Linked DNA regions of Homo sapiens: all the other regions are linked to region 1. Evidence: fine-mapped expression QTL. A gene starts in region 1. Each other region holds a variant in brackets. All regions are shown on one strand. Distances are from middle to middle.

Region 1 (6,650 bases):
GGCGGAGGTTGCAAGTGAGCCGAGATTGCACCACTGCACTCCAGCCTGGGTGACAAAAGTGAAATTCCATCTCAAAAAAAATAAAAAAACCAAAAATTGTAGCCCGCCACAGTGGCTCACACCTGTAATCCCAGCACTCTGGGAGTCTTAGGCAGGCAAATGACTTGTCGTCAGGAGTTGGAGACCAGCCTGCCCAACATGGTAAAACCCCGTCTCCATTAAAAATACAAAAATTGGCCTGGCACGGTGGCTCATGCCTGTAATCCCAACACTTCGGGAGGCCAGGGCAGGCGGATCACCTAGGACAGGAGTTCAAGACCAGCCTAACCAACATGGTGAAACCCCTACAGAAAATACAAACAATTAGCCAGGTGTGGTGGCCCATGCCTGTAATCCCAGCTACTTGGGAGGCCTAGGCATAAGAATCGCTTGAACCCAGGAGGCAGACGTTGCAGTGAGCCGAGATCGTGCCATTGCACTCCAGCCTGGGCGACAGAGTGACTCCAACTAAAAAAAAAAAAAAATTAGCTGGGCATGGTGGTGGGCACCTGTAATCCCAGCTACTCGGGAGGCTGAGGCAGGAGAATCGCTTGAACCTGGGAGGCAGAGGCTGCAATGAGCCAAGACTGCACCATCGCACTCCAGCCTGGGCAACAAAAGTGAAACTCTGTCTCAAAAAAAAAAATACAGGCCGGGCGCGGTGGCTCACGCCTGTAATCCCAGCACTTTGGGAGGCGGAGGCGGGCGGATCACGAGGTCAGGAGATCGAGACCATCCCGGCTAAAACGGTGAAACCCCGTCTCTACTAAAAAAATACAAAAAATTAGCCGGGCGTAGTGGCGGGCGCCTGTAGTCCCAGCTACTCGGGAGGCTGAGGCAGGAGAATGGCGTGAACCCGGGAGGCGGAGCTTGCAGTGAGCCGAGATCCCGCCACTGCACTCCAGCCTGGGCGACAGAGCGAGACTCCTTCTCAAAAAAAAAAAAAAAAAAAAAAAAAATACAAAAATTAGCTGGGTGTGGTGACGGGCACCTATAGGGTGGTGGCAAGCACCTATAATCCCAGCTACTCGGGAGGCTGAAGCAGGAAAATCGCTTGAACCCAGGAGTGGGACGCTGCAGTGAGCCAAGATCAAGCCACTGCACTCCAGCTTGGGCAACAGAGCAGGACTCTGTCTAAAAAATAAATAAATAAAAATAAAAAATTGTAAGGCCAGGCGCAGTGGCTCACGCCTGTAATCCCAGCACTTTGGGAGGCCAAGGTGGGTGGATGACAAGGTCAGGAGTTTGAGGCCAGCCTGACCAACATGAAGAAACCCCATCTCTACTAAAAATACAAAATTAGCCCGGTGTGGTGGCGCACAACTGTAGTCCCAGCTACTTGGGAGGCTAAGGCAGGAGAATAGCTTGAACAGGAGGTGGAGGTTGTGGTGAGCCAAGATCACGCCATTGCACTCCAGCCTGGGCAACAAGAGCAAAATTCCATCTCAAAAAAAAAAAAAAAAAAATAGAGATGAGGTCTTGTTATGTTGCTCAGACGAGTCTCTAACTCCTGGGTTCAAGTGATCCTCCTGCCTCAGCCTCTGGAGTACCTGGGATTACAGGCGTGAGCCACTGCACCTGATGAATACCACTCCTAATACTTTTTTTTTTCTTTTTTGAGACAGAGTCTCACTCTGTCACCCAGGCTGGAGTGCAGTGGCACGATCTCGGCTCACTGCAAGCTCCGCCTCCCGGGTTCACGCCATTCTCCTGCCTCAGCCTCGCGAGTAGCTGGGACTACAGGCGCCCGCCACCATGCCCAGCTATTTTTTTTTTTTTTTTTTTTTTGGATTTTTAATAGAGACAGGGTTTCACCGTGTTAGCCAGGATGGTCTCGATCTCCTGACCACGTGATCCACCTGCCTTGTTCTCCCAAAGTACTGTGATTACAGGTGTGAGCCACCATGCCCAGCCTACTCCTAACACTTTCATATCACCCTGATATATATTATCTCATGCCATCCACACACAAATCCTATGAAACAAGTCAGATACGTATTTCCTTTCTGTAGGATACAGACACCAATAGGTAAAATGACATTATCAATACTTTTTTTTTTTTTTGAGACGGAGTCTTGCTCTGTCACCAGGCTAGAGATCTCCGCTCACTGCAATCTCCGCCTCCTGGGTTCAAGCGATTCTCTTGTCTCAGCCTCCTGAATAGCTGGGATTACAGGCGGGCGCCACCATGCCCGGCTAATTTTTGTTTTTGTTTTTGTTTTTTCAGTAGAGATGAGGTTCCACTATGTTGGCCAGAGTGGTCTCGAACTCCTGACCTCAGGTGATCCGCCTACATGGGCCTCCTAAAGTACTGGGATTACAGGCGTCAGCCACGGCGCCCAACCTTTTTTTTTTTTTTTTTTTTTGAGATGGAGTCTCGCTCTGTCACCCAGGCTGGAGTGCAATGGCACGACCCTGGCTCACTGCAACCTCCGCCTCCCGGGTTCAAGTGCTTCTCCTGCCTCTGCCTCCCGAGTGGCTGAAATTACAGGTGCCCGCCACCATGCCCAACTTTTTTTTTTTTTTTTTTAAGACAGAGTCCAGCTCTGTCCCCCAAGTTGGAGTGCAGTTGTGCGATCTCGGCTCATTGTAACCTCCACCTCCTGGTTTCAAGCAATTCTCTTGCCTCAGTCACTGGGATTACAGGCGTGCGCCACCACGCCCAGCTAATTTTTGTATTTTTAGTAGAGACAGGGTTTCACCATGTTGGCCAGGCTGGTCTCGAACTCCTGACCTCAAGTGATCCGCCCGCCTCGGCCTCCCAAAGTGCTGGGATTACAGGCGTGAGCCACCGCGCCCAGCCGACATTATCAATAAGGTTTGTTGATAAATCAAAACCATGTAAACAGTATGTTTTCACATGTATTATAAACGTTAAGGGAACCAGGAAAAATTAACAGTTGATCTGAGGTCCCGGAATTATGGATAATATTTAAATTCCCCCGCGCCGGTTGCACTTAAATGATTTTACCTCTACACATACCGAAATTTGAGAAACAAATGATAGCTCATAAAATGTTTTCCAAACCCTCCGTAGTGTTACTTCTCTAATAATATAACTTTAATTATAAATGCTTTGTTTCATTTTTTTTTTTCTACCAGTAAACAGAAAATCTAAACTATTAACTGGACAATACCGCCCTGAGGTTGACGGTGGGTTTTGACAACACAATCCACGCAGCTAGAAGTGAGTAGAATTAGTAAAGCTATCCATGCCTTACCATGTGCCAGAAACTGCTCTAAGTGTTTCACTGACGGCTCACAACAATCCTGAGAGAGGTACTATTATTATTTCAATTATAGAGACGAAGAAACTGACGTTCCAAGGCTAATTTACCCGAGGTCACACAGGTAGTGAGTGGCAAAATTCTTCCGCCTTGGCGTATACCTCCCGCACTCACGGCCTGGCCTCCGGAGGCTAGACGGTTCGCCGCGCTGGGGAGGCCCCCTCAACCCTCAAGTGCCAGGGCTCTGTCGCCTCCCCACACCCGGGACACACCAACCGCCGGCCTGCCGCCGCTTACCTCCCCGAGCCTATAGTGTACCTTCCGCCCAGAAGCCACTTTACCCGTATAGGTCCATCTGCTTTTCCCTTCCGATGCCAAACAAGGCGTCAGAACACCAAAGTTCCGGCCGAGTACAGAAGCCCAGGAAGGACAGCAAGGACCCCGTAGCCCAGCCAACTGAGGTTTTTGGAGGTTTTTGGTCCACTTGGTCGCCAGTTGTAAGGAAGCAGTGAGAATTCAGATAAGTTTTTCGCCTCTCCTTCCTGTATCCTTTCAGGCGGCAAACTCCATCCCTGCGTCTTTTTTTTTTTTTTTTTTTTTGAGACGGATTCTCGCTCTGTCGCCCAGGCTGGAGTGCAGTGGCGCGATCTCGGCTCACTACAACCTCTGCCTCCCAGATTCAAGCGATTCTCCTGCCTCAGCCTCCCGAGTAGCTGGGATTACAGGTGCGCGCCATCATGCCCGACTAATTTTTGTATTTTTAGTAGAGACGGGGTTTCACCATGTTAGCCGGGATGATCTCGATCTCCTGACCTCGTGATCCACCCGCCTCGGCCTCCCAAAGTGCTGAGATTACAGGCGCGAGCCACCAAGCCCGGCCCCCTGCGTCTTTCAAATAGAACCCAGTTATTGCTAACGCGCCTGTATCCCTTCCTTCCTTATCTGTCGCCTCGGTCCCCACAAGAACTGCCTGAGGCCTCAAAAGGCCGATTCTGCTGGAATTGCCCCCATGAATTCTTGAGGACCACCACGCACCTGGACAGCAGCCCCTCCTACCAGCCCTTCCCGAGTCTCGCCCCACACGGTCGCCAGTTGCTCAGGGCATCTGTTTGTACCTTGTGCACACCTCTCTTAAAGCACTTTTTTTTTTTGAGACGGAGTCTCACTCTGTTGCCCAGGCTGTAGTGCAGTGGCGCGATCTGCAACCTCCGACTCCTGGGTTGGAGCAATTCTCCTGCCTCAGCCTCCCAAGTAGCTGGGATTACAGGTGTGTGCCACCACACCCGGATAATTTTTGTATTTTTAGTAGAGATGGGGTTTCGCCATGTTGGCCAGGCTGGTCTCGAAATCCTGACCTCATGATCCACCCACCTCGGCCTCCCAAAGTGCTGGTATTACAGGCGTGAGCCACCATGCCCGGCCAAAGCACTTAAACATTGTTTGTTTTTGTTTTTTTTTCTTACTGCCAGGGAAGACAGAATCAACATTGTATCTTTCACTCACTTCTCACTTCCTTTGCCACGCTGTGAGCTTTCTTGGGTCCAGACTGCGCTGTTTTTCCTTTCCCCAGAATGTACCATAGCGGCGGGAATTTAGTGCTTAGTGTGAATTTGAGAGCATATAGTTCCGTAACACCTTTGTTCTCTAAGGTTCCGAAGGAGCTCACTAAATACACTAGCCCTTTCCATGTTTTCTCCTTCACTAGTTTCCGCGCCGCCTCCTCTTCCTCAAATTCGGCTTGGCTTCTCTAGACTCTACACTTGCCCCCTCAAACCTTACCTTTCTGCCCCCATCACTGACTCTTCTATTCTCTTCCCACAACCTTTAATGCGGGCTGTCTCTCCATGGCCCATCCTGCCTCTACCTCTTTTCTAGTTTCAAATATAAGTTATCGGCCGGGCGCGGTGGTTCACGCCTGTAATCCCAGCACTTTGGGAGGCCGAGGCGGGCGGATCACAAGGTCAGGAGATCGAGACCATCCTGGCTAACACGGTGAAACCCCGTCTCTACTAAAAATACAAAAAAATTGGCCGGGCGTGCTGGCGGGCGCCTGTAGTCCCAGCTACTCAGGAGACTGAGGCAGGAGAATGGCGTGAACCCGGGAGACGGAGCTTGCAGTGAGCCGAGATCGCACCACTGCACTCCAGCCTGGGCCACAGAGCCAGACTCCGTCTCAGAAAAAGAAAAAATCGAAATGTCTTTTTGTTGTTGTTTTTTAGGAAATATCCTTGAGCAATAAAGAAAACTAAATGTCTAAAACTAAATGTGTCATTTTTCCTCCTACTAATTCCTCCTGTCTCCCTATTTCTGTAAATGGCCACATCCTTCTAGGATGGAAATGCTTGACTGTCCTTGGCTCCTCTCCTTAAAATCTTCTCTTACTGATTTTAAATCCTGTTGCATTCTCTTGCTGTTTTTGATCTTTGATCTTTTCACACCTTCTTTCCAAGCCCACTGACACGTTTCTTGTTTTTTTGGTTTTTAAAATATAGTAGCCATCCTAATGAGTGTGAAGTGGTATCTCATTTTGGTTTTGATTTGCATGTCTCTAATCATTAGTTGTTTGCTGCTTTTTTTTTTTTGAACCACAGTCTTCCTCACCCAGGCTGGAGTGCAGTGGCGTGATCTCGGCTCACTGCAACCCCCGCCTCCCGGGTTCAAGTGATTCTCCTGCCTCAGCCTCCTGAGTAGCTGGGATTAGAGGTGCATGCCACCACACCCAGCTGATTATTGTATTTTTAGCAGAGTCAGGGTTTCGTCATGTTGGCCAGGCTGGTCTCCAACTCCTGACCTCAGTTGATCCACCCACCTCGGCCATCCAAGGTGCTGGGATTACAGGCGTGAGCCACTGTGCCAGGCTGTTTGCTTAAGTATAGGAAGCCCCATATGTATTTATTACCAGTGGAGAAAGGAAGGCTGGAAGAAAGAAAAAAATATTCAAATAGAAAGGAAGGACATGACAATGCCAGGCAGAAGAAAAGGTAGAGTCACTAGGGGAAGGAAATATAGGAAATAAAGGAAGGAAATAAAGGCAAAGAGCTGAGGGGAAATGATTATGTAGGTTAACCCAACCATGTCTGTAGCACCTTCTTCCTTGGCCTCCCAGACAGTGGTAGTGGGCTCCACCAAATCTTAACTATACCTTTGTTCACAACAAAACTGAAACCCAGCCAGGCAGGGTAGCTCACACCTGTAATGCCAGCACTTTGGGAGGCCTAGTCGGGTGAATCACCTGAGATCAGGAGTTCGAGACCAGCCTGGCCAACATGGTAAAACCCTGTCTCTACTAAAAATACAAAAATTAGCCAGGGGTGGTGGCGAGCACCCGTAATCCCAGCTACTCGGGAGGCTGAGGCAGGAGAATGGCTTGAACCTGGGAGGCAG
Region 2 (6,650 bases), 620 kb before region 1:
TTGAATCCTTCTGAGGGAGCTTCTCAAAGTGAAAAGTCTGGGTAGGAATTGGGGTTAGAACAAATTAAAAGACCCAGCCGGGCACAGCGGCTCGCACCTGTAGTCCCAGCTACTCAGGAGGCCAAGGCAGAAGGACTGCTTGAGCCCAGGAGTTTGAGGCTGCAGTGAGCCATGATGGTGCCACCCTAGCCTGGGTGACAGTACAAAACCCCGTCTTTCTTTAAAAAAAAAAAAAAGAAGAAGAAGACTCAGCCAGAAATGGTGAATACAAGCACCAATTTTTTTGTTTTGTTTTGTTTTTTGAGATGGAGTTTTGCTCTGTCACCCAGGCTAGAGCACAGCAGCGTGATCTCAGCTCACTGCAACCTCTGCCTCCCGGGTTCAAGCAATTCTCTGCCTCAACTTCTCGAGTAGTTGGGATTACAGGCACCCGCCACCACACCCAGCTAATTTTTGTATTTTTAGTAGAGAAGGGGTTTCACCATCTTGGCCAGGCTGGTCTCGAACTCCTGACGTCGTGATCCACCCGCCTCGGCCTCCCAAAGTGCTGGGATTACAGGCGTGAGCCACCGCGCCCGGCCACAAGCACCAATTTTACTCACACTGGATAAGTTTAAATCCCACCTCCAGCAAGCTCTTAAACTTTTGGTGCCTTAGCTCCTTTGCCTATAAAAAATGGCTTCAGAGGCCAGGTGCGGCAGCTCACCAGCTGTAATACCAGCACTTTGGGAGACTGAGGTGGATAGCTTGAGGCCAGGAGTTTAAGACCAGCCTGGCCAACATGGTGAAACTCCATCTCTAAAAAAACGGAACAAAATTAGCCGGGCGTAGTGGTGCATGCCTGTAGTCCCACTATCGTGAGGCTGAGGCACAAGAATCGCCTGAACCCAGAGGGTGGGGGTTGCAGTGAGCCGAGATCATGCCACTGCGCTCCAGCCTAGGTGACAGGGTGAGACCCTGTCTCAAAAAACCATGTTCTTAAAAAAGGTTTAGTACCCACACTTCCTTGTATAGTTATGATAATTAAAGGGACAATAAGGCATTTGTCACAATGCTTAGCTAATATTAAACCTTATTATTGTTATTATTCCTAAGAGTGTCTTTAGGAACCAACCTCTAAGAACAGCGTTTTGCCCAGAGCCTGAGCCAAAAGGCTTTGAGATGAGTTGCTGGAAGTGAAGCTTCAGGTGAGGGAGATGAATGAAAATGACCACAGGAAACCACAGGCCACCGAGCACTATGATGGCACCTACCAAGCTTCACTTTCTTCCTTTTCTCATCAAGTTTCTGGGTCCTCTCTGCTGCTTGCTTCTTGGCTTTCCTGACCTTGTCATATGCAGCCTGGCAGGAGAAAGGGGCACAGGGCAGAGGGTCAGTGAGAGAGTAAAGACAGAGCCCCGGCAATCTGCCTGGCCCCTAGCCCACGAGCCATCAGAGTGGCAGCCTGGTGACTGGGTCTCCTGGGCTTAGACAGCAAGGACTGTGCCACATGGCAAAGGGCAGAGGACCGAGGTTGAGAGGCAGCAGTGGTCTCTAACCATGGGGGACGATTCCGATGAAGGAGGCTGTGCTTACCCTGGCTGCAGCATCGGTCAGCACCTCCAAGGCCTGAGAAAGCTGGTGGAAGAGTTCAGCTAAACATAAGGATCAAAAAGACAGAAGAAAAATAAAGTTAAGACTTCGTAATGGTGTGCTCCCTCAAAAAAAAAAAAAATCTTCAAAGAAGTCACAGGATGGCAGACAAGCCGACATCAGCAGATGACAGACCAACAAGGAGGGGTGAGCATATCAGCAACTGACCAGACACCCCTCACAGGAGGGAAGCCCTGGGACCCATTGCCTGGAGCCAGGCAATGTGTGCTTACACCCCACAGCACTCACATGCAGAGCTTACATCGGGAAACACAATGCCCGGGTGAGTGGGTTTCTTTCTCCCCACGCCCTGAGAAGAGTCTCACCTGCTCTGGGATTATCTGGATTTTTGTCTGGGTGGCAGGAGAGGGCCTTCTGCCTATACGCCTTCTTTACCTGGAAGAGTCAGACAGAAGACATGGCCATTCACTCTCATCCCAGGGACAAACAGGAAAACCTTGCTCAATGGGTAAGGGGAATCCCATGCACACCTAAAAGAGAAGCTGCTGGCGCCCACTTCCTAGCCACCAGGGAGACTGGCAATGGAGGAGGCCAAGGCCATGGAGGGAGTGAGCCACTGTCGCCCAGCACAGGAGCTGGGCCCACCTCCTGCTAAGTGCTCAACCTCACCACTGCAGATGTCCAGGGGCTGCTGCAACAGGCAGGAGCACAGTACCCCGCTTTCTCGACAGCCACTCGAAGACAGGTACTCTACACATTCTTGGTGGGCATATAAACTGGGGCAACCTATCTGGAAGAAAATTCAGCCATCAAAATTTAAAATGTTCTTTCCCTTTGACCCAAGTCCTAGGAATCTGGACTTGTAGAAGTATGGCAAAAATAAATATACAAGGATGCTCTCTACAACACTGTTGATACTAGCCAGCCAAGATCCCCATCAACGGGGAGACTCATTTAAAAGATTATGATTGGCCGGTGCGGTGGCTCACGCCTGTCATCCCAGCACTTTGGGAGGCTGAGGTGGACAGATCACCTGAGGTCAGGAGTTTGAGACCAGCCTCACTAACATAGTGAAACTCCATCTCTACTAAATATACAAAAATTAGCTAGGCATAGTGGCGGGCAGCTGTAATCCCAGCTACTTGGGAGGCTGAGGCAGGAGAATCGCTTGAACCGAGGAGGCGGAGGTTGCAGTGAGCCGAAATCGCACCACTACACTCCGGCCTGGCGACAGAGCAAGACTCTGTCTCAAATAAAATAAAATAAAATAAAATAAAAAATAAAATAAAAGATTATGATTGAGGCCGGACATGGTGGCTCACGCCTGTAATCACAGCACTTTGGGAGGCTGAGGCGGGTGGATCACTTGAGGTCAGGAGTAGGAGACCA[G/A]CCTGGCCAACATGGCGAAACCCCATCTCTACTAAAAATACAAAAATTAGCTGGGTGTGATGACATATTCCCCTGTAATCCCCCTACTTGGGAGGCTGAGGCATGAGAATCGCTTGATTCATGCAGGAGGCAGAGGTTGCAGTGAGCCAAGATTGTGCCACTACACTCCAGCCTGTGGGACAAGAGCGAGACTCCATCTCAGAAAAAAAAAAAAAAAAAAAAAGATTATGATTGGCCAGACATGGTGTAATCCTGTAATCCTGGCATGTAATCCTGTAATCCTCATGCCTGTAATCCTGGCACTTTGGGAGGCTGAGGTGGGCAGATCACTTGAGGTCAGGAGTTCGAGACCAGCCTCGCCAACAAAGCAAAACCCTGTCTCTATTAAAAATACAAAAATTAGCCGGGCATGGTGGCGTGCACCTGTAGACCCAGCTACTTGGGAGGCTGAGGCAGGAGAATCACTTGAGCCCCAGAGGCGGAGGTTGCAGTGAGCCGAGATCATGCCATTGTACTCTAGCCTGAGTGACAGAGGGAGACCTTGTCTCAAAAAAATAATAAAAAATAAATTTCAAAAAGTTTGTTCAGGAATTTGCCACGCTTATTAAAATTTTTTTTAAATAAAATATTATAGTAGACAGAGGTATCCATGTTCTGACATAGATCTTATTATAAACTTTTGAGTTTAGTCCAGGTGCGGTGGCTCAAGCCTGTAATCCCAGCACTTTGGGAGGCCGAGACAGGTGGATCACGAGGTCAGGAGATTGAGACCATCCCGGCTAACACGGTGAAACCCCGTCTCTACTAAAAATACAAAAAAATTAGCCAGGCATGGTGGCGGGCGCCTGTAGTCCCAGCTACTCGAGAGGCTGAGGCAGGAGAATCGCTTGAACCTGGGAGGCAGAGGTTGCAGTGAGCCGAGATCACACCATTGCACTGCAGCCTGGGAGACAGAATGAGACTCTGTCTCAAAAAAAAAAAATTTTTTTTTGTCAGGTGTGGTGGTGCATGCCTGTAGTCCCAGCTACTCAGGCGGTTGAGGCGAGAGGATCGCTTGAGCCCAGGAGTTCCAGCCAAGCCTGGGCAACATGGCAAGACCTCATCTCTACAAAAATTTTTTAAACATGAGCCAGGTGTGGTAGCATGTGCCTTTGTCCCCCTACTCAGGAGGCTGAGGTGGGAGGATCACTGGAGCCCGGGAGGTTGAAGCTGTAGTGAGCATGTTCACACCACTGCATTTCAGCCTAGGTGACAGAGTGAGACCTTGTCTCAAAAATAAAAATAAAAAAATTTTAAATTAAATTAAAATAAAATAAAAAATTAGCCAGGCATAGTGGTGCGTGCCTGCAGTACCAGCTACTAAGGAGGTTGAGGAGGGAGGATCACCTCAGCCAAGGATTTTGAGGCTGCCGTGAGCTATGATGATGCCACTGCACTCCAGCCTGGGTGACAGAGCAAGACTCTCTCTTAAATACATAGAAAGAAAGAAACCCCAATATTTCTTACATAAGTAAAAATAAACACAGCTACCAAGATTCTCTTTCGTGTGCTACCTAATAGCTGTTGTAAGTGAAGACAGTGTACACAACCCCAGAATCCGTCCTCTGCCTCCAAGGCCTTTGCTTTCTCCCTTCTGCTTGGTGTGTGTTACCTGCTGCTCAAACCTCCTGGAGGAAGAGCTAAGCAGATTGGATTTCTAAGCTTCCAAGATGGACGCAAGAAACGCTTCTACACCCAAGTGTGCTAAATAAGGACTTTCAGAGGTAAGCAGCCAGCATCCACAAGGTGAGCACCTGCTGGGCAACTCCTCCATCCATGAGGCAGCCACCGGGCCCAGGACCTCTAGGGGTGTGCTGCCACCTGCTGGGCCATAGCCAGGGCACCTGCCATGGCAGCCCAAGCTGTTTGGTTCTCCTGACTGCCTTGGAGGCAGCAGGAACCACCCAGGACAGGCGCTGGGCAGAGAGGGTGTAGACGTGCCACCTGCCTTCCCAATCGCCCACCGAAGCACATCTGCCCTGCCTGCTCACCTCCCACCCTAACCCTCCCTGCCTAGCTCTGTTTTCACTACAAAAAAGAACAATATTAAGGGAAAGGAGGTGCTAGCTTAAGACAGTGTCATCTTTGCAATATATCATCTTTACTTTTTAGGTCCCTTATCATTCGTCTTTTCTTTCTTTTGCTCTCTTTGCCTGCTTTATTGTGCCTCCAGCCTCATTCCTTTACTGAACATATTTTATATTTCAGGGCCCCTGTTTGCTTTTTTTCAATAAGTAAAACAATACCAAAAACATTATAAAGATGTTCTTTCTCAATCTCCCCAGCCCTCTGACATCAAGGTTCATTAACACATATAAAAGCACCTACACACACTGACAGGAGTCTGTTGGGTGTTTGTTCCTGGCCTCTGGGCCCCTCCTCTCTGATCCTATCTCCACCCTCTCTCTGGGATGGGTGAGAGGAAGGGAGGGGGAGGCGGTCCATGTCCCAGTATCTATGGCATCACCTGCAACACTACCTTCAAGATGAACTTCCTCAGGACTAGGACTAGTAGGCTTGCCCCAGGGATGTAGGGGGGTTTTGTGGAAGATGTTTTCTTTTGTATCATGGGGCTCTTTTAAAGTGGTTTAGGCTGGGCATGGTGGCTCACACCTCTAATCCCATCGCTGTGGGAGGCCGAGGTGGGTGGATCACTTGAGGTCTGGAGTTTGAGACCAGCCTGGCCAACATGGTGAAACTTGTATCTACTAAAAATATAAAAATTAGCCGGGTGTGGTGGTGCATGCTTGTAATCTCAGCTATGGGGGAAGCTGAGGCAGAAGAATCACTTGATTCCGGGGGGCAGAGGCTTCAGTGAGCTGAGATCGTGTCACTGTACCCCAGCCTGGGTGACAGAGTAAGGCTCTGTCTCAAAAAAATAAAATAAAAGTTTGTATGTTCCTTGTTATAAATCTGAGAGGGGGAGTAGAAGTGAGTGTGAAGAAGAAGGAGCAGGCTGGGTGTGGTGGCTCACGCCTGTAATCCCAGCATTTTGGGAGGCTGAGGCGGGCGAATCAGTTGAGGTCAGGAATTCGAGACCAGCCTGGCCAACGTGGTAAAACCCCGTCTCTACCAAAAATACAAAAATTAGCTGGGCGTGGTGGCACACGCCTGTAGTCCCAGCTACTAGGGAGGCTGAGGCAGGAACCTGGGAGGCGGAGGTTGCAGTGAGCCGAGATTGCACCACTGCACTCCAGCCTGGGCGACAAAAATAAAATTCTGTCTCAAAAAAAAAAAGAAGGAGCAGTAAGAAAGCAAGACAGAAGGGGTGTCCAGCAGTGGCATCTCCTTCATTTTCTTTCCTTTTTTTGAGAGAATGCTTTCTGAATTTTATTCTAAGGGAATGATAAATATTCTTTTGTGTTTCATAATTTATTTTGAATGTTCTATATTGGAATTTTGGTTTTTCACTGTAATAGGAAAATAAAATTATTCAAGCTGAAAAATCCACTCATATTGTCAAATATGCTTTACATATATTAACTTATTTAATTCTTAAAGCCCCTATGAGGTAGAAATTATTATCCTCCTCATTTTACAAATGAGGAAACTGTGACATAAGGGTTAATTATGATACCCAAAATCCATTCAATGAAAAGCCATACAAACATTACTTTAGGCAAAAACTA
Region 3 (5,000 bases), 190 kb before region 1:
TTACAGACACGCACCACCACACCCAGCTAATTTTTGTATTTTTAGTAGAGACGGTGTTCACCATGTTGGTCGGGCTGGTCTCAAACTCCTGACCTTGTGATTCACCCATCTCGGCCTCGCAAAGTGCTGGGATTACAGGCATGAGCCACCGTGTCCAGCCAGTTTTTGTTTTGTTTTGTTTTGTTTTGTTGTTTTTTGAGACAGAGTCTCACTCTTTCCCAGGCTGGAGTATAGTGGCATGATCTCGGCTCACTGTACCCTCCACCTCCTCCCACTCAGCCTCCCCAGTAACTGGGATTACAAGTGCCCACCACCACACCTGGCTAATTTTTGTATTTTTAGTAGAGATGGGGTTTTGCCATGTTGGTCAGGCTGTTTTAGTGGTTGCCAAGGGCTGAGGAGTGATTAGGAGTGATGGATAAGGGGTGTGGGGTTTCTTTCTGGTATACTGAAAATATTCTAAAATTTATTATGTTGCTTTACTTACAACTCTGTGACTACACTAAAAGAAAATGAGCTGTACATTTTAACTAAATAAATTGTATGGCATGTGGATTATATCTCAATAATGCTATTTTTTAATAAAAATCTTCTGTTCAGTTCAGACTTAAAAAACAACCTGTTGTTGACCATCCTGGCTAACACGGTGAAACCCCGTCTCTACTAAAAATACAAAAAATTAGCCGGGTGCAGTGGCAGGCGCCTGTAGTCCCAGCTACTCGGGAGGCTGAGGCAGGAGAATGGCGTGAACCCGGGAGGTGGAGCTTGCAGTGAGCCGAGATAGTGCCACTGCACTCCAGCCTGGGCGAAAGAGACTCCATCTCAAAAACAAAACAAAACAAAACAAAAACCTTTTGATAGCTAACTGTCCTTTTAAAAATGCATCCATGGGCCAGGGACAGTGGCTTACACCTGTAATCCCAGCACTTTGGGAGGCGGAGATAGGCAGATCACCTGAGGTCAGGAGTTTGAGACCAGCCTGGCCAACATGGCAAAACCCCATCTCTACTACTAAAAATACAAAAATTAGCTGGCGTGGTGGTGCATGCCTGTAATACCAGCTACTCAGGAGGCTGAGCCAGGAGAATCGCTTGAACCCAGGAGGCGGAGGTTGAGGTGAGCCAAGATCACCCCACCGAACTCCAGCCTGGGCCACAAGGCGAGACTCCATCTCAAAAAAAAAAAAAAATTCTGACTCTTCTCTGAAACTGCCAATGGCTTTAAGTCAAACTCAAAATCTTTACAATGTCTAGAAAGCCCTAAGTGAACTGCCTCCTGCCCCCTTCCATCTCCTACCATTCTTCTTCACTGTGGTCCTGTCACACTGACCTCCCTGCTGTTCCTCCACACAAGCCAGGAATATTTCAGCCTCAGGGCCTTTGCACTTGCTAATTCCACTTTTAAGTTCTTCACTTTTTTTTTTTTGAGATGGAGTCTCGCTCTGTCACCCAGGCTGGAGTGCAGTGGCACGATCTCGGCTCACTGCAAGCTCCGCCTCCCGAGTTCACACCATTCTCCTGACCCAGCCTGGTGAGTAGCTGGGACTACAGGCGCCTGCCAGCATGCCCGGCTATTTTTTTGTATTTTTAGTAGAGACGGGTTTTCACCGTGTTAGCCAGGATGGTCTCAATCTCCTGACCTCGTGATCCACCCGCCTCAGCCTCCCAAAGTGCTGGGATTACAGGCGTGAGCCACTGCACCCAGCCTTTAAGTTCTCCACTTTGATATCTACATGGCTCCCTTACTTACTCAGGTCTTTGTTCTAATGTCACCTCCCTAGAGATGTTTTCTCTGTCTATCCCACATAAAATAGGACCTCCTTGTCACTCTAGTCCCCATACCATGCTTTATTTTTATTCCCAGCACTTACTGCCATCTAAAATAAAAGCACTTGTTTATTGTCTTGCATTAGAATATAAGCTCCTTGAGGGCGGGAACTTTGTCTTGATTATGGTTTTACCCAAGAGCTCAGAACAGTGCCTGGCATATAGGCATATAGCAGCCACCAAATATGTTGTTGAATTAATAGGAAAAAAAATCAAAAATCTTATAATAAAGAAATTTACAGCCGAGCGTGGTGGCTCATGCCTGTAATCCCAGCACTTTGGGAGGCCGAGGCGGGTGGATCACGAGGTCAGGAGATCGAGACCATCCTGGCTAACACGGTGAAACACTGTCTTTACTAAAAATACAAAAAATTAGCCAGGCGTGGTGGCGGGCACCTGTAGTCCCAGCTACACGGGAGGCTGAGGCAGGAGAAGGGTGTGAACCTGGGAGGCGGAGCTTGCAGTGAGCCAAGATTGGTCCACTGCACTCCAACCTGGGCGATAGAGCAAGACTCCGTCTCAAAAAAAAAAAGAAAGAAAGAAATTTATGACACACAGACATGATACCTACATACAGGCAATACTAGTAATGATTGAGGACAATACTTACCGCAGCACCAAACTTCTGCTGGAATTGATTAATGACTGTGTATGTCACCTCCTCTTCCTCTACAAGACAAGGATTGCATTAGATATATTTCTCTTCCTCAGCAACAGAATAGCTTTCTCAATAATTTTGGCCACACTCATATATTCCTACTGTATTGCAACTCAAATACCCTAAAATTGCAAAACCACCCTCCCTACGTACTACTTCTCTTCCTTTTTTTTCCTCCTTAGCATTTGGCACTATTACAGTATATATTTTACTTATTTATCTAATTTAGCATCTGTTTGCTGCTCAGTAAGGGGAGGGATACCATATTTCAGAATCCCCAATGAATAAGTGTACCCCAATAATTATGAGTACACACACAGTATGTACTCAGTTATTAAATAAACAAATGAATCACAATATTTTATCTTAATTCAGAACCCAGAAGCAATGGCTCAGCTTAGGATTCCATAGAGAATCTTGATTCAGGGTTACATCAACTCTAAACAGTAAAGAGAGCCTAGTTGAATTTGACTGACCTGGTTAAAAAAAAAAAAAAGA[G/A]AGAGAGAGCCTAGAAAATTCAGAGCCTCGGCTGGGCACAGTGGCTCATGCCTTTAATCACAACACTTTAGGAGGCCAAGGCGGGCGGATCACCTGAGGTCGGGAGTTCGAGACTAGCCTGATCAACATGGAGAAACCCCGTCTCTACTAAAAATACAAAATTAGCTGGGCGTGGTGGCACATGCCTGTAATCACAGCTACTATGGAGGCAGAGGCAGGATAATTGCTTGAATCCAGGAGGTGGAGGTTGCAGTGAGCCGAGATCACGCCATTGCACTGCAGCCTGGGCAACAAGAGCGAAACTCCATCTCAAAAAAAAAAAGAAAATTCAGAGCCCCTATATTCACCTGATGGGCTGTACTTGAGGTCATTCAGCAGAGAGGTAGCTGGTGCTTCAGGGGCAGGAGAAGCAGGCTCACATACATTTAGGTCTTCAACTTTCATTTTCTCCATCCAGGTTCTTTCTGCATGTAGACTATCCTTACAAGAAACAATATTTGGGTGAACTTGTTCTTTGTTGTTGACACCAAAAACAGATTTTGCCACACATTAACGTTAAGGACAGTGGTCCTTCATTAACTAGAGGACCCATTCATCCACTGCTTACATTGACTTGAGGGCGCTATCTAACAATGGAAGAAAACACCTATATATTTCTTCTCATTTCTATTTCCTTATGCCAAGGAATTAAGCAGCTGGTGAATTAGAGTTAAGGCTTTCTACCCTAATGTGCACATTTGGAAAATATCATAATTAAGAAAATTATTCCTTCTTACCTAACAGAAGATGCTTTTGCTCTCACTGAGCCTTGTTCCACTTCATCTAGTAGTTCCACTGTAAAATAACCAAATGGCTTCCAACAGAGTTTCCAATCAGAAATCAATTAACTACTCCACTACCCACACACCCCTAGTTTAACCATGTACTGCAAACAATAATTGGAAATGACATGTTAGTCCACGGAGGCTTTTACTGGCCAGCAATAAATACAACAGAAGAGACCATCTAAAGTACCAAAGACTCTCAGTATTCTATCCCTACAAAGCTTCTTGGTTATTTAGAAGGATTAGGAACATTTCTATACATCCCCTTCACCCTTTTTGTTCTAGGGTACCTTTGTGGTCATTCAAGTTAGTTCTAGAGATTTCTTTCCCACCATCCCAATCCTAATGCACCTTCCTTCACATGGGTGCTGTTTGAGGGTTTTCCTTTTTTTTTTTTTTTTTTTGAGATGAAGTCTCGCACTGTTGCCTAGGCTGGAGTGCAGAGGTGCGACCTCAGCTCACTGTAACCTCCGCCTCCCAGGTTCAGGTGATACTCCTGCCTCAGCCTCCCAAGTCCCATGCCTGGGACTACAGGCATGCGCCACCACACACAGCTAACTTTTGTATTTTTAGTAGAGACGGGGTTTCACCATTGTGGCCAGGCTGGTCTCAATCTCTTGACCTCTTGATCCGCTCGCCTCAGCCTCCCTAAGTGCTGGGATTACAGGCGTGAGCCACCACATCTGGCCTCGTTTAGGTACTTTTCAAGCAAAAAGCCTCTATGTTTCAAAAGTCTCTTTTCTCTGTACTATCTAGAAGTATTGAATCTGGAGCAGAGAAAAGGTAAAATTGACTGAAAAATGCTGATTAGCCATTATTATCCTTCATCTTGACAATTCTTATCCAAGGTACTTTTGGGGACAACTCCTCCATGGTTGATTGGGCCACAGGACAAAGACAGAAATGACTATCCTTTGAGCTTAAAAATTATGAGCAAAGCCTATAATCCCAGCACTCTGGGAAGCTGAGGCAGGCAGATCACCTGAGGTCAGGAGTTCGAGACCAGCCTGGCCAACATGGCGAAACCCTGTGTCTCTACTAAAAAAATACAACAATTGGGCTGGGTGCAGTGGCTCACGCCTGTAATCCCAGCACTTTGGGAGGGTGAGGGGGGTGAATCATTTGAGGTCAGGAGTTTGAGACCAACCTAGACAACATGGTGAAACCCCGTTTCTACTAAAAATACAAAAAAAT

Which allele goes with the higher level. Alleles are on the strand shown, and positions count from the first base shown. SD is a standard deviation of normalised expression in the study named. Not every link is listed here.
For the expression in ileum of the gene that starts at base 3,613 in region 1, G is the high allele of the variant in region 3 and A is the other (moderate effect, 0.55 SD a copy in GTEx).

What was found. PIP is the estimated chance that this variant, and not a neighbour inherited with it, causes the effect.
Region 2: its variant is the best candidate, but not a certain one, in a credible set for the expression of NDUFAF1 in neutrophils (BLUEPRINT, PIP 0.57).
Region 3: its variant is the best candidate, but not a certain one, in a credible set for the expression of NDUFAF1 in ileum (GTEx, PIP 0.56).

Annotation. Positions count from the first base shown.
Region 1 is chr15:41,398,884-41,405,533 of GRCh38, forward strand. It overlaps NDUFAF1 (NADH:ubiquinone oxidoreductase complex assembly factor 1), which reads right to left and starts at 3,613. Exons shown (of 5, transcript NM_016013.4): 1 at 3,261-3,613.
Region 2 is chr15:40,777,970-40,784,619 of GRCh38, forward strand. It overlaps DNAJC17 (DnaJ heat shock protein family (Hsp40) member C17), which reads right to left. Exons shown (of 11, transcript NM_018163.3): 2 at 1,959-2,028; 3 at 1,576-1,634; 4 at 1,254-1,341. Among named protein-coding and RNA genes, the nearest start is that of C15orf62, 11 kb to the left of the region's middle. The variant G/A (reference allele first, on the strand shown) is at 2,983.
Region 3 is chr15:41,213,339-41,218,338 of GRCh38, forward strand. It overlaps EXD1 (exonuclease 3'-5' domain containing 1), which reads right to left. Exons shown (of 12, transcript NM_001286441.2): 4 at 3,759-3,816; 5 at 3,330-3,457; 6 at 2,437-2,495. Among named protein-coding and RNA genes, the nearest start is that of EXD1, 15 kb to the right of the region's middle. The variant G/A (reference allele first, on the strand shown) is at 2,983.